Regions from separate parts of the Homo sapiens genome. Here region 1 is linked to region 2. A link means that fine-mapping ties the variant in region 2 to the expression of a gene that starts in the linked region. Tissue or cell type: esophagus muscle. Region 2 holds a variant in brackets; the other region holds the start of a gene. All regions are shown on one strand. Distances are from middle to middle.

Evidence for each region. PIP is the estimated chance that this variant, and not a neighbour inherited with it, causes the effect.
Region 1: NUDT2 starts here. The variant in region 2 is fine-mapped to the expression of NUDT2 in esophagus muscle (GTEx, PIP 0.96).

What each region holds. Positions count from the first base shown.
Region 1 is chr9:34,326,143-34,334,234 of GRCh38, forward strand. It overlaps NUDT2 (nudix hydrolase 2), which reads left to right and starts at 3,427. Exons shown (of 5, transcript NM_001161.5): 1 at 3,427-3,457. KIF24 (kinesin family member 24) reads right to left here and starts at 3,126. Exons shown (of 13, transcript NM_194313.4): 1 at 2,964-3,126. RefSeq lists enhancers at 2,793-2,852, 2,953-3,052, 3,140-3,647, 3,183-3,372.
Region 2 is chr9:34,576,549-34,584,637 of GRCh38, forward strand. CNTFR (ciliary neurotrophic factor receptor) reads right to left here. Exons shown (of 10, transcript NM_147164.3): 2 at 4,547-4,657. It overlaps CNTFR-AS1 (CNTFR antisense RNA 1), which reads left to right. Exons shown (of 2, transcript NR_024369.1): 2 at 5,787-6,524. Among named protein-coding and RNA genes, the nearest start is that of CNTFR, 9.1 kb to the right of the region's middle. RefSeq lists an enhancer at 2,013-2,987. The variant C/T (reference allele first, on the strand shown) is at 3,567.

The DNA.
Region 1 (8,092 bases), 250 kb before region 2:
CAGGAGTTTGAGATGAGCCTGGACAACATAGTGAGGCCTTGTCTCTACAAATAAACAAAATTAGCTGGGCATGGTGGTACATGCCTGTGGTCCCAGCTACTTGGGGGGCTGAGGTGGGAGGATTGCTTGGGCCTGGGAGTCAGAGGCTACAGTGAGCCATGATCACACCACTGCAGTTCAGTGTGGGCAACAGGGCGACAGAGTAAGAGCCTGTCTCAAGAAAACCCCCCAAAAAACAGATAAGGTCCCTGCCCTCATGACACTATTATTTTAATGGGAAGAGATAATTAATAATCAATAAGCGGTAGTTTTAGATGATGATAATCACTACCGAAGAATAAAGCCCAGTGCAGGGCTTACTTTACATTGGATGATCAGAGAAGGCTTCATTCAGAAGGGAATATTTGAGGTGAAACCTGAAATAACATGGAGTCACTTATGTAAAAATCAGGAGGAAGAGGGTTCCACGTGAGCACATTAGCCCAAAGGTGGAAATGAGCATGGCAAAATCAAGCCATCAAACACGGACAGGTTGGCTGGCATAGTAGGTGAGAAGGAGAATAGTATGAGAAGAGGAGAGAAAGGTAGGGGCCAGATTATGTAGGGTGTACTGGGCCACATAAAAGTGTCTGAATTTTACTTTTAAGTGAAGTAGGAAGTCATTAGAGGATCTTAAGTGGAGAAAGTATATGCTATGATTCGTCTTCAAAGTTCACTCTCCCAGTTCTGTGAGGAAATGGATCACAGCAGGTGGGCAAAAGTGGAAACAGGGAGATCATTTAGGAAGCTACTGCACTGAACTGACAAAAAAAAATGCTGACTTGGAAAAAATGTTTCCTTTCATGAGGGTTAATTAGAATAATGTAAATTAACTGCTACATTCAGTGTCTGATATATAAACACTCAACAATATATTATACTATTATTATTAGTTTATACCTACAGAAAACTCTTCTTATTCAACACGATATGAACATCAAAACCCTTGAGACAGTAACTTGGGAGGTATACAATGACCATACACTCAAGGTTTAAGAAGTAGAACTCTATTATTTATTTAACAAAATGTGTTGAGGATCTACACTGTGCAAATTATAAACTGGTTTGCTGAGCCAGCATAGGGAAACTGGATTAATATATCAGGCATCATAGAATACTAGATCTGGAAGGGATCTAGAAGAGTTCAGCCCCTCACTTTACGACAAAAGAGCAGCCCAGAGAAAGAAACTGTGGTTCTCCCTAAACTAAAAACTGAGAGGCTCATACCTTAGGTTGCCCCAAGGACACACTCTGAATAACTAAAGATTTTCATTAACAATATAAAACCACAAATTTTAAATAAAATGCTATCTTAGCAGTAATGTGCTACACTAAGAAAAATGTAATATGCATATAAAGCCCTGGATACAGTGCTTTGTACGGGGTGAACACTCAATAAATGGTAACTACTACTTTCAGCAGCTAAAAAAAAAGTCTGTATGGTCTTTGGAAGGCTGAGAGTGTGTGGTCTACCTGACATCAACTACTTGACTTGAGAGTAGAGCCACAGGAATTTTAATCTAATTCAATTCTTTGATTTTCCAGATGGAAAAAATGAGGTCTAAAGGGGCTAGATTCAGGCGTTCAAGGCTGCGGTGAGCTATTATCATGCTAGTGCACTACAGCCTGGGTGACAGAGCAAGACATTTTCTCTAATAAAAAAAAAATAATAATAATAATAAAGGGACTAAATGACTTGCAAAGCCACCCACAGTGAATTAGAGACAGAGACAGAGCCAAAGCCAAACCCACATGTAGTGGGTTTCCACTACATGTCACAGCTATAAGGTAGTGTTTCAAACTTTTATAAAAGGGTAACAAGAACATAGCTGCTGTACTGAACTTTTTCACTCCTTTTATTAAGGCCACCAGTGAGCTATGAATTTGATATAAGGAGCAATCACACCAACAATCAGGCTGTGAATATATAATCCATGAGTTAACAACGAAACAGTCTTAGGAACGCAATTCTATCATAGACACCTGATGAATAGATGGAGTTCACCTGAGCAGCTGTTATATGCACTTCAATAGAGAGACTACAAAGCCTCTCTACTTGTAGAATACAAGTACAAAGAAGATGCTTTAAAACATTTTCCAAAGCACACTTAAAATGTGACAATAGCTGCCGGTCACTAAGAAGCTAAAGGGAGATAAATTATCTTGGCATACAGCAACAGAATGGTTTATTTTAAGCAAAGACTAAAAGGAGTCTAATAAAATTATTGGGAGACCAAGGCTAAAAGCCACAGATGCAGGAAGAGTTGCAGCAACCAATCCAAAAAAGTTTAGCCTTTCACAAAGAGTAGAAAGGCCAGCTGTGGACTGTGTGTGGACTTTTAGGTCCTTTTGCATTGAAGATTAGGGTGGCCTCCCCCTAGCCTCGAAATAAAAAATCGTCTCTGAAGCAGAGAGACAACAAGGCAGGGCATGAAGAGGAATCCAATCTATTTCTTGTAAATTAAATTCAACTCAACAAATATTTCCTGAAAATCTACTATGTGCAAGACATTGTGAACGATGCTTGCCTTACCTCAAAGGCTTCAAAATTTTATGGGAAAAGGGAAGCGAACGGGCTTCCCGGAAGTAAACAACCCAAGGGCGAATAGAAATGCCCTAAAAGAGGTGCCGGTCAGGCTTATCGGTTCAAAAGCAAGAAGGCTTTGGGACTCAAGAGTTTAGTCTCCCAAAGTGAGAGAAGTGGCGTTCAAGATAATTGCTGAAGAAAAGGCAGAGATATGGGGATGAAAGATAGGAAAGTAGGTGAACTTTAGGAAGAGCCAAGAGGGGCCAACTCTCGGTTCCCTCACAACTGCCAGTTTCCTCCCGCGCTCAGCCGACGTCACGCGCACCCGTGTCCGCGGGCAGGCGCCACGGTTCCGGACCAGACCTACCCCTCCTCTATTCTCCCCGCCCTTTCTCACCTCGGTCCAAACTCCTCGGTCTGCCCTGTCTGAGAAGAGGAGAAGACAATGCCGTCGGGAGTGAGCCCCAAAGCCCGCAACCTAACAGTCCCGTCAACCCGGGAGCCACCGGCGGCGGCCAGGCCGCATCTCCATGGCAACGCCGCCAAGCGCCAGTTCGAACGCCCGCGCTGTGGCCCGCGCGTCGCCAGTCCCGCACCGCCCACCAATGGGCATCCAAGGAATCGGTTGACGTTCGTTGACTTCTCCTCTGGAAGACCAATCAGAGGTCTGAAGAAACCGTGGGCGTAACTCTCAATTTCCGACCTTCAGCCAATCGTTCCGCTTGAGGGAAGATCTCGCGACGTTTCAGTGTGAGACGCGCACCTTTGAGGCGGGTCGAAGATCCTTCTGCCGAATTCTATTGATGGGCCCAAGCGTAACCAGGCTCTTCTGATTGGCCGGTGTACTTCAGTTTCCGTCCAAGGTCCGCCTCCTACCTCCTTCTGCTTCGGGTGAGTACCCTTAAGGGCCCACTTGATTTTAGTTCTCAGTGGAGGAAATGAGCCTTGGAGCGATGGGAATCTGCCTCTGGCAAACCTCTGGTCGCTGCAGGGCCCGAGAGGGATGCGCCCTCCTCTAAGTTGGCAGTGAGGTGTGGGCAGGCCAGGTCCCATCCGCTCTCAGGACCTCAGTTTTCCTGTCTGCACCGGGAGAAGGGAGGTTCCCTGACTCTGAGCCTTGCTTGTCCCCGTCGGAGTGGGGATAGGGTGGGTCGTCCAAATCCCAGAGGCGGGAGAGGTCCAGGTTTAGGGCCCAGAGGCCCAGGCGCCGAACCTTCCCCTCCCTGGGCCTCAGTTTCACTTGTTGCTACCCATTAAACCCCGCCTGCTTTCCAAAAGAGATTTTATGTTTTCTAATTGCTTCAGTTATTGAATGGATAATATCGTGGCAGTTATAGCAGAAGTAAAGAAAGTCGAACAAGAGCCCCACCGCCTTAAACAAACAAACAAAAAAGGGACAGCGTAAACAATGCAGGCCGGGTGCGGTGGCTCACGCCTGTAATCCCAGCATTTTGGGAGGCCAAGGCGGGCGGATCACGAGGTCAGGAGATCGAGACCATCCTGGCTAACACGGTGAAACCCCGTCTCTACTAAACAAAATACAAAAGTTAGCCAGGCGTCGTGGCGGGCACGTATAGTCCCTGCTACTCGGGAGGCTGAGGCAGGAGAATGGCATGAACCCAGGAGGCGGAGCTTGCAGTGAGCGGAGGTCGCGCCACTGCACTCCAGCCTGGGCGACAGAGCGAGACTCCGTCTCAAAAACAAAACAAAACAAAAAAAAACTGAATGCAATCAAATTGTCAAATGTAAAACGCTATTATAGAGTTAAGGTTAAGATCATTGATGTTAGGAGTCAGGCAGACCTACATTTGAGTCACTTACCCAGACATCTCTGAGCTATAGTTCCCTTTCTACTCTTCTGAAAAATGGCAGTAATGCCTCAGCGGGTTGTTGTGAAGATTAAGTGAAATAATGAAGGTAAAGCACTTGACACAACGCCTGGCGAGTAGTAACTTCTTAAAAAATGGTAGCGGCCGGGCGCGGTGGCTCACGCCTGTAATCCTAGCCCTTTGGGAGGCCGAGGCGGGCGGATCACGAGGTCAGGAGATCGAGACCATCCTGGCTGACACGGTGAAACCCCGTCTCTACTAAAAACACAAAAAATTAGCCGGGCGTGGTGGCGGGCGCCTGTGGTCCCAGCTACTCGGGAGGCTGAGGCAGGAGAATGGCACGAACCCGGGAGGCGGAGTTTGCAGAGAGCAGAGATCGCACCACTGCACTCCAGCCTGGGCGACAGAGGGAGACTCCGTCTCAAAAAAAAAAAGGTAGCTATTATTCTTATAATAAGAACAGGCAAATACACTAGTCAGTGCGTTGGTGTACTTTTTGTAACTGAGTACCCAATTTTGCCCAAAATTAGTCAGTTAAGGGAAAAAAGGTAATTCTTACTAATAAGGAAACAAATCCATTCTTCAAAAGATAAATTATTTTTCTAGTTTCTATATTAAAAGGAATTTATGCTGTGGGACCTTATAAGGAATATATATACTGTGGTGAACAGTGTTGAGCAGTTTAACAGACAAGATGAAAAGTCATTTCTTTAAAACAGAGAAGCTTTTTGATGATCTTTTATGACACACGGGTAACAGTAACTCATATATTTAGTACCTCTGATAATGTCAGACCCTCTATATATGTCATTTATAAACTCCACAACAACCATGCAAAGTAGGTGTTAACTTCATTTTACAAATGAGGAAGTTAAGTATCTTGCTCTAAGTATCTTGCTCTATTAACTTCAATAGCTAGGCCTTTCTGACTGCATAGACAGCCATGCTTTTCTGTGTTTCTGACTAAAGGAGGATGAAAATGCTTGGAATACCAGACAGATGCAGGGGCAGGTTGGACAGCTTGACTTACCTAAATTGGAGGGAATGTGAGCTGCAGAGGTACCTATGGTAGGAGCAATATCTTGCTCTAATAGAAAATTTTCACCGTGGTCTTGGTAGAGAAGGGAGGAGAAAAAAATTGTTTTAATAAAAATAATTTTAAAAAAGTAAATTCCCACCTTGGGAAATGAAGAGATAGGATGAGATGATCACTGAACTTTAGACCCATCTGTTCATTTATCTTATGGATAGACTATAGCACTTCAAATTCAACTTGTCCCAAACAAATGCTTCACTTGCACCCCCTCCTCCACCCAGGCACTCAAACCAAAGCCTTTCTCTTTCCCTTGGCTTATGAAACATCTCTCTGTCCCTTAGACAATGAAATATCACTATTGTCCATTTTACTTTGAAATATCTCTCAGATTCATCCCTTCCTTTCCTTTCTCACAGCCTCTGCCTTGATCTAACTGGAATCATTTGTTAACTGGTCTGTTGCAATAGACTTGTAACTGGTTAATCTCTCTGCCTCCAATCTGTCCTAATTCGTTCCCCAGCTTGCTTGCAGCTAGAATATCTTTGTAAAATGTCAGTCTGACCAAATTATACCCTTGCCTAAAACCAGTCAGAGGCTTCATTGCCTACAGAATATAAACTAAGCTGTTTACCAATGAGATGTCATTTTGTGCTTGAGGGTGTTGCCCACACTCCTCCCTTTGCTGGCAGTGCCTTGCATCCGCCTCCCTTCTGCCTGGTAAACTAGTGACCCATCAGAATCCTTATGGGGTACCTTGTTAACCTAAAGATGCTTCTTTGCTGCCTTTCCATCTTACGTTGCACAAAACACACTGTAACTTGTCTGTTGGAATGTCTTCCACTTTCACTAGCCTGTAAATCTCTAGGAAGTTGGTGCTTGGTAGTATTCAGCTTCATATCTATCTGTCAATCCTTCACACTGTCTGTCGCATGGGATACGCACAACAGACAAATTCCCCGAGTTAGCTTTCTAGAATTGTACAGCAGATGGCACTAATAGGCTGCTTAACAAATCCCCTTCACTAAGAATGATTTTTGTCCCAACCTTGTCTGACTTTGGCCTTATCCTAGAAGCCAATATTTATGCCATTACAGGTAAAATCTCCTGTTTCCTCCCTCAGCCAATAGCAAAAATAACAAAATGACTCAGCAGCTTCGTCTCTGCAAGAATGGAGTGGCAGATGTCCAGGGAAAGGTGCATTTGAGGGAATATTTTCTTTGTCTCAATTTATTCATGGTAGTTGGGGCTTTTCTTTTGCATTTCTTTCTTTTTTCTTCTCTTCCATTTGTTATTGTTCTTACAAGAAAGAGCTTTACTCATGGGTGGGTGCCTCATTTCTGTCCACTCCAAAAGGGAAGAAAGAAACTGGCAAATTGGAAAAAAGATGATGATGATGTGGGAGGTGAGGGAGTAGTCACATAGAATTGCAGTCACATAGAATTGCTTGTGGGCAGGCAAACAGTTGGCTTTCCTCCTCATCTGGAGGAGGGTCTGGGCAAATTTTCTGGACACTAGTGCCCTAAGTTAAGTGGAACATGTGGTTTTAGGTTCCTACTTCCCAGAAAAGAGCAGAGGAGGCATAGAAACCCTTTTGAGATGGGTGCTATTAGGAGCCTGAGGCTACATTTTACCCCTCCTTCAGAGTCTTCTTCGGATACCAGGATTTAACATCTACGGCCCTCTCCCCCCAACTAAAACCTTTTTGGTGGAAATGATCCCAGCTAGACATCTTAACCTCCAAAGGAATATAGATTAAAGACTGGGAATTTGGGGCCAGGCACAGTAGATTGCACCTGTAATCCCAGCACTTTGGGAGGCCAAAGTGGGAAGGTCACTTAAGGCCAGGAGTTCAAGACTAGCTTGGTCAGCATAGCAAGACCCCATCTCTACAAAAAAAGTGTTTTTTAAATTTAGCCAGATGTGATGGCTCCTGCTTGTAGTCCTAGCTACCCAGGAGGCTAAGACAGGAAAATTCCTTGAGCCCAGAAGGGATGCAGTGAGCTCTTGAGGCTGCAGTGAGCTGTGATCATACCATTGCCCTCCAGTCTGGATGACACAGAGAGACATTGTCAAAAAAAAAAAAAAAAAAAAAAAAAAAAGGACTGGGAATTTTGAAACTGGAAATGATTTTATAAATCTTGTCTGTCCTCTCTCAGGGCCATTTGTGTCCTAAGCCCTACTCTTTCATGGTGAACAGAGCTATGAAAGGGACAAAAATTATAGACTTTGGAGTTAGACTTACTTGGATTGAAATCCCATCCTTTACAGGCCAGCTATGCCCTTATGCAAGTATTTTAACCTTTTGAAATAATATCAGTGTCCTTGTAAATTAGATATAATAATGCTTCTCTTGAAAGGTTGTTTTGAGCTTTAGAAACAATAGTTGTCAAAAGTCTTGCACAGTATAGCTGGCACAGTATATATAGATGCTTAATTGACAACGCGGCATGAAACACTGTTTCTGCTAAAGGGATATTAGAATATGGAGAACAGGTCAGAGGGAAAATTTGGAGAGCTCTTCCTGTACCTAAAGTTACATTTCTGAGGGCTTTTTACAGTTACTCTGATTAATTTGATGAAAATATTGAAACAAACAGCATAGCCATGTATTTGTAAATTCTTTTTTTGGTACCTAGGTCCCGAACCTCCTAGGCTCTGAGG
Region 2 (8,089 bases):
GGAAAGAAAAGGAAAGGAAATACTTCGTTGGTCCCTAAAAAGTGAGAAAATAAATGATTATTCCCCAGGCAGCTCCTTCTTCCCCAAACCCTGCTTTCAACAGCATTAGGGAATGAAGGGAGATCCATTCCAGACAGGAGAGGTGAAGGAAGTACCTGGGGGAGACAGATGGTGGCACTGGAATCAGCAAGAGCCAGAAAGGCCCAGAAATCAGCCGACTTCCCAGGCCCTTGCTGCCTTCCCTCATCACCCTCTCTTCCCCACGATGCGGATCGGCAGCAGCTCTCAGCCTAGCTATCTGCTGTGTGATCCCAAGGCCTCTTCAAAACCTCTATGTGCCCATAACTGTCTAGCGGGCACCCAGATGTCTGGCCTGGCTGCAGAAAGGGCAGGAGAAGGGAAGGAGATGAGACCTCCACTCCAGCCCCCCAGCCCCCACCAAAGCCCTGGCATCACTGTCAGCCCACAGAGAGGTAGGGCAGATGCCCAGCAGCAGGAGGGGAGCAGGCAGAGCCAGCGGTGCTCCTCTAACTAACCACTGAGGAGGAGAGTCCTAAGGTGTCCTTGGACCCTGCAGCCCCGCCCCCATCACTGGAGGAGTAGACGCGGAGTCGCTGTCCAGTCAGAATGGAATCCAGGCTGTGCTGGCCAGGCCCCAGCCCAGGAAAGATCGGCAATGCTGCAGACATCCTTGCCACTTGCCACTCCAGGTGTAGCTGGGGCCCTGATGCCTCCATCCTAAAAGGAGCCTGACGTGACTCCACGGAAGACAGGCAGGACCTAAGGAAACCAGGCAGGGGTAATGCCATAAAGCCAGGTGATAGGGACTTCGGGGAAGGGGGCAGTGGGGACAAAAGAAACCAGGCAGCAGGGTGTAAGGAAACCAGGTGACAGGGCCCCAAAGAAGGTAGGTGGTGGGAGCCAAATGAAATCAGGCAGTGGGGACTAAAGTTAGCTAGGAGGTGTGGACAAATGAAGCCAGGCTTTGGGGATCAAATGAAACCAGGCAAGAGGCCCACAGGATGTGAGAAAAGAAAGATATCAGGAGCTCATCCCCTCTGTCTAGATGTCACCCCCACACGCTGGGCCTCTCTCTCTGTAGCCCCCCTTCCACTCAGGCGGTGGTCCCCTCCCCCAGGCCAATGGACACAGCCAGAGCCCCCTCCCCTCTCAGAGGCCTGGTCCGATTGCAGCCAATGGGCCCCGGCCCCATCCCTGGGACCTCAGGAAGTCCCAGTCCCTCCCACCGGCTGCAGAGGCAGGGGGGCTGGGGGGAGAGACAGAGAAGAGAAAAGAAGAGAGACAGCTTGGCAGGGGGAGCGCGCCGAGCAGCCGCGGGGGGCGGAGGCCGAGAAAGGAGCGGGAAGCGCCGAGGCGGGCTGGGCGGGCTGGCGGGCGGGCGAGCGCGGGGCGGGGGCGTCGCGGCGGCGGGGGTGACAAGTCCTCCGGCCCTGTGGCCACTGACCTGGGTCCCCACGCAGGCGCCCCGTCGGTGCCTCCGGCGCTCCGTGGGTCCGCCTGCCCGCCTGCGGGCATCGGGTCTGCGGGGCTGGGGCCCGGGCAGCCGGAACGACCCGGGAGGCAGAAGCAACCCCCACAGCGGTCCCGGCGGGCGGGTGGGCGAGGGGCCGGGCCGCGCGGTGAGCGACGAGGGCCGAGCCCCGAGTGAGCGACCGGGCAAGCGGGCCGGGAGGAGGGGAGGAAGGAGCGCGCTGCAAGCGAACGAGCAAGCGAGCAAGCGAGCTAGCGGAGGGAGAGTGAGGGACGGCATGCAGTGAGGTCATCCTTTGAATCTAATTGTCTGAGTCAGGAGGAGATGTGGCACTTGATGCTGGGGGAGGGGAGGCAGAAGGGACCCTCCCCGCTCCGGTCCCGGCCCCTCTCCACACCCAGGGGTGGCCGGGGCCTCCTTTCCCCTCCCAAGGAGAAGTTGCCGCAGGCCAACTCGGGCAGACCACTGCTGGTCTCAGGGCTGACCTCTGCTGCCTGGGGCTATCAGCAAGTGGTGAGAGATGTGGGACCCGGCCCCAGCTCCCGGCTACCTTCCTCCTCCCGGGGTGACCGCCACACCTCAAGGCCCAGCTCACTTTCCCACATTTTTTAGGGCACGGGAGGCTCCCAGCCTACCCCCAGGTCCTATTCCAGGTCCTATTCTGCCCTGTGAGGATAAAGCAGGAACTTCAGCCAGCCTTCCAAGTTGCCTTACTTTAGGAGCACGGGGCCCCAACTCTATTCCCCAAGTTACTTCCAGTGCTGGGAATTTGGGGGAATCTGGAAACTGAACCCCAGGCTCACCATCCTGCCCTCTGGGAATGACAGTGCAATGCCACCCGTCCTCCAGTTACTTTCTGCATTTGGGATGAGGACCCCAGATCCGCCTTTAGGAGGGACAGGAGCAGGGCCAGACTCCTAGGGTCTCCAGGGAGGGACCAGGCTGCCCAGAGGGTGACGGACAGGTTGGTCACTGGACCCTGGGCTTGTCAGGTGTGCACACCCGTACACATATACATGAGCACACGCACACGCACACGTGCAAATGCACATCCGCATGGGGTCGGGGGCACCAGACAGCTGGGGATACTCACACCAAGGGCCATACCCTCCTCCCTTCGCCCCTGTGGGGGAGGGGTGATAAATATTTAAGGGGCTTTTAGCTCAAAAGGGGCTGGAACGGGGGAGGGAGGGGGATCCACGCTGCCTGATTAATGGGGTTACGGGCTTGGATCAATCCGTCCGCCCGCCGCTCCCTCCTCCCCCTCCTCCCTCCCTCCGCCTAATGCGCTTTATCAGGAGACGCTTTTCTGACTTGGCAGCGTTGGGCGTTTTAAATAGACCCATTTAGAGCTGGGGTTGGGGGAGAAGGAGGGGGGTGGAGAGACAGAGATTGAGACAGGCTGGGAGACAGAGACAAATCAGGAAAGAGAGATGGGCCCTAGAAGAGAGAGACTGGGAGAGGAGAGACAGAAGGAAATGCAGAGATACCATTGAGATAAGACACTGAGGGCGAGGCTCCCACGGAGGCTGAGATGGACAGAGAGAGGGTGATGGAGAGAGAGAGGGTGATGGGAGGCCAAAGGAAGCTGGGGGGCTGAGGAGCAGAAACAAACAAACAAAAAGAGACAGGGAGGAAAGGAACCATGGGCAGCAGGGAGAAGCCCAGAGAGAGGCTCTCTGCAAGGGCTGAGTGCTAGCCTGGGAGACAGCAGATATTCTTTATTTCCAAAAACCGTTTTTCATCCACTTTGTTAAATTAAAAAGCTGTTTTTAAAGTGGTGCTGGAGGTGCTGCTGGGGGAGGGTGAACAGAACTGCCAAGTCCTCCCTCTCTGGCCTCCTCCTCCTTGGCCCCCACAGAAGCTGCCTCAGCCTGAGCCCCTGGGGTGTTCTCCAGCTCCCCTGCTCGCTGAGGCAATCCTCTGAGATCCCCAGGAAGAGGGTCAGGGCATCTGAGCTACTGTTCACTGGCAGGAAGTCCTTCCTGCTGTCTGGCCTCAGTTCTTCTTGCTGCAGGGAGCCCATTCTTTCCCCGACCACTATCCTTCTCTTCTCCAGCTCCTGTCCCGGCTC[C/T]CTAAGGTGTTCCCAGTTTGCGGAGGATTACGTGCCCTCTCAGCCCAGTAGCACACTTTCCAAATAAGCCATCAGACTCCTCCCAAGGTACCCCCCATAAATATTATCTTTTATTCTGTAAATCCATCTCCTAGCCCCATCCTAGTCTGAACTTCTATCAGATACACACCCCATGTCCTTGGGTCCTCTGGGAACAGTGGGGTGAAAAGCTTAACTCTCTACAGCCTTCTCAGGCCTCCCTTCCTCCTCTCCTGGGCCCCAGCTCCATCTTAAGCCCCTTTTATGTGTCAGCCTGGGGTACCCCACTCCACCCTCAACAACAACCTGGTCCTAGTTGTGAAGGGTTAGTCCCCCCTCAGCCCCCAGCCGGGAAAATGGCCAGTCTGTTTGGGAGCTGAGATGAAAAGCCCGGCCGGCCTTTGTGGGCCTCTGGCGGGTTTTGGACAATAGGCCCTTCCGTTCCGCTCCAGTGCCTCGATGCCTTGGATGCCCCCACCCCCAAGCTGCCAATCCAGGGGCCTTGCCTGGCCTGAATGAGAGACAGGGAGAGTCAGGCTCGGCCCCACAGCTGGCCTCAGAAGATTCTGGACTTTCTGACCTGCCATCCCATCTTTTTAAAGCCTAGCTGCTCCTCCAATCAAATAAGAGAGATGTCTGGGGGGCAGAGAGGAAATCTGAGGATACTGAAACAGAAACATACTCCCATATCTGGGACTCAGCACCCCCTTAGTATAGAACCCAGTTTCCTAACCTGGTGTTGCCCTTGCCTGTGTGACCACAGGTAAGTCTCTTCCCTTTCTATTTGAGAGCATGAAAAGCCTCAGCCAGGCTGAGCCCAAAACCTCTGGAAAAAGAAAGGACAGGGGAAGAGAGGAAGGAATCTCAGGTCCTCCTCCACTCATGTCCCCTAGACGTACAGCCCCACTACACCTGCCTGATTCCCTGAGATTGATCTGCCCCACGTGGGCCCCAGCACCTACCTCTTCACCACTGGCCACACACCAAGCACATCAATGTCCTCCTCCTCCTCCAGACCAACTCTTCAGGACTTCCAAAACCAAGGGGGCAAGATGAGGTGACAAGGCTAGAGTCTAGAAGGGCAAAGGGCACAAATCAGAGGTCACAGAGGAGCCACAGGCCTTAGTCCAACTCAGAGGCCATTCCATACTCACAGCCCCACTGTGAGAAGGGGAGACTGAGGCAGGCAGCAGCTAAACGTCTGGAAGAAGAAAAGTTGAGAGTAATACAGACCCCTCCCAGCACCCCTTGCTGACTTCAGGTTCTGAACCACAGGGACAAAGGTTGCCAGAAGGCAGTGGCCTGATACAATACACAGATACACACCCACAGACAATCCACAATTCTTATACAATCAGTTTGCAGACACACAGGCACCTCCATATCACATGCATCCTCACATGCACAATCCTAGAGGCACAGGGTCACAGGCACGGTGTAAATAACCACCATCGTAACACCCCCTTCCTTATCACCACTATGATTTATTGAGCATCTATTATATGCCAGGAACTGTGTTTGGCACTTTATATGCATTATCTTACTTAATCTTCATGATTTCTCCATGAGGTAGGTTTTATTGTTCTTCACATTTGATAACCAAGGAGATTGAGCTTCAAGGAGGCCTTGCCCAATACCACAGAGCTGATCAGTTCCAGAGTCTAGATTTGAGTCCGTATCTAGTTCCAAAACCTTGCTGCTATACCAATTTGCCTGTGCAGGTCTCTCACCCACCTGCACAATGTCTTTCCCAAGAATAATAACAGCAGGTATCACTTGTTCAGGGTCCTTGGTTACCCAGACACTGTGATAAGTACTTAATTTACATTTTGGTACTGAATCATCAAAACAAGCTTCAAGGCCAGGCATGGTGGCTCACACCTGTAATCCCAGCACTTTGGGAGGCTGAAGCAGGTGGATCACCTGAGCTTAGGAGTTCCAGACTAGCCTGGGCAACATAGTGAAACCCCATCTCTACCAAAAATACAAAAAATTAGCCAGGCGTGGTGGCATGTGCCTGTGGTTCCAGCTACTCCTGAGGCTGAGGTGGGAGGGTCACTTGAGCGTGGGAGGCGAAGGTTGCACTGAGCCAAGATTGAGCCACTGCACTCTCCAGCCTGGGTGACCAAGTGAAACCCTATGGCAAAAAAAAAAAAAAAAAAAAACACAAGCTTTGGAGGTAATCCTGTTTCTGTTTTACAGATCCTGAAACTGAGGCTCAGAGAGCAGAAGCAGCTTGGCCAAAGTCATACAACTGGTAGTTGGTAAAGGAGCTGGCCTTGAACTCAGGGATATCTTGAAAGCCACTGTTGCTTCTATGGACTCTAGCCATTCAAAAGACCCCTCACCTTCTATAAGACCCCAGGAGATCCTCAGGGTCCAACTGCTCCCTTGAAAACAGGTCCCAGATATATCTGCCAAAGGTATGATTAGGTGCCTAAACACATACCATGAGAAAGGGATTCCATGTCTTCCAATCCTGCCCAGAGATGCAGAGACACCACCACCCAGGGAGAGATAGCCAGAAACTAAAATAAGATGTTAGAGACAGGTGGTTGATAGTGACAGATACAGCCACACCAAGACAGGCTCAAAGGGAGGAAGACTGAGGGGAAGCCAGAGACAGAGAGGGACACATTAGGCCAAAGAATGAGAGAGATAGCTGGAAAAGGAGACAATAGGAGTAGAGGAGGGTACAGGCTGACATGAAAAAACACCGACAGATACACTCCAGTATGCAGACAGACACATATAGACCCATCTGACCTTCACAAGAAACAGACTGTGAAAGCAAGCAAGGCTCAGGCTGTGTGTGGTGTGCGTATGTGTGTGTGCGTATTGTGGGGGGAGCATGCAGAGTCTGTATAGCTACGCACATTACACCAGCTGCTTCCAGCAATTTCATCTGATTAATAATAAATGCCCCATAATTACAGCCGCTCCCCCAGCCCTTCTTCCTGTTTTTTGTCAGCTGCTGCCAGACCAGCCCCCCATAAACCCTATGGTCCCCTCCATCCTCACCTGCTGTCCTCTAGGAGGCTGAGAGAATGTGAGCTGGTGGAGGAGGCCATACTCCCAATTTGAGGAGGGATACCCATCTCCCTATCTTGGATTAATGCCCTTTGCTTCCAAGCAAAAAGTCGTCTTACTTAGGTCTCACTCAGAACTTTTCCACTGCATGGGTATAACCTGTGACCCCTAATATGGCCTAGGGGCCCACATCTGGGATGCAGAGAGATGAAATCCCCTTGCCCACTCTTTATCGCTAGCTGGCTAAGTCTCCATCCACAAACTTTACCTAGCCTCAGAACCCTGTAGGCTCACAGGAGGAAGGCACCAGGACAGGGGTCCTCACCCCATCATTCCAATCCCAGACAGCCCGAATCTCTGCCCACTTGTATACCCTCAAGCTCTGGACACCAGGTGGCTCCGCCTGCCAATTCCTGAGCACCCCCCAACCCCACCCCCACAAGTCCACCTCCTTCCAGGCCTCCCACCCAAGCTCGCCAAGGCAGCTCTATCAGAATCAGCTGCGGGGTTGTGCTGATCTGTTTCTAATCGTTGGGGCCTGGTTCACGCTTGCCCCCAGCCCCCAATATTGATTCCATTATTTGGAAAGTCATTGACGTCAGGGGCCTGGATGGGTGCCAAAACCGCCTTCTCTCCGGGCCTGGGCCAGGGCCCAGCCCCCCATCCCGCAATTTCACGGAGGGGCCCACAAGGGTCAGCTCATGGGCCGAGGTCACATGGCATCTTCCCTCTGACTCTGGGCTCCTCTGCCTTTTTGGAACCACTGTGCAGCTCCCTTCTGGAGAGAGGGGCTACGCAAAGACCTGGGATTTAGAAGTTGGGGGAGGCTATAAAAGGGAGTCTTAAGCCCCTCATTGGGACTCTGGCTGAGAGCAGGGGCTCTGAAGAGGTAAGGAGGAGGGCAGTGGCTCAGAAAAGGGTAGTTGGGAACACTTTGTGTTTTTTGCCACACTCTTATTTTGGAACATCCTGAAGCTGGTCTTGAAATGGATCCTACTGACTACTTGGTTTTTATGTCTGACATCAGTTGTATCTCCAGACTCTCTTAGAAGGAAATTCTCTGCAGTTATTTAGGATAACAGATTACCCTAAATGTTGCCATAATTTGACTAACTGGCACCAGTAATTTTATAAATCTTTGCTCCATATAAAACAAAGGCTCTCTTTCTTGTGCATCTCTCACCTATGCTGCCTCAGTTTCCCCATATTCACACACTCTCCCAGTCTTTCCTGGCGTTGGATGTGTGTTTCTTCCTCTCTGTCTCTATCTGACCAAGATGCAGCCACTGCCACACTGGCCCACGCCAGCAACTCCTGGGCTCTGGCTGGACAGAGTATTTTTAGGATCCGAACCCCGTGTTCTCAGACAGGCATTAATAACCAATACAGACAGTCTGTGGTGCCCACAACAGCTACACAGCCTCAGAGCCCAGCCTTGGAAGGTCAGAGATGGGGTCCATTCCTTCAGCTAGAGG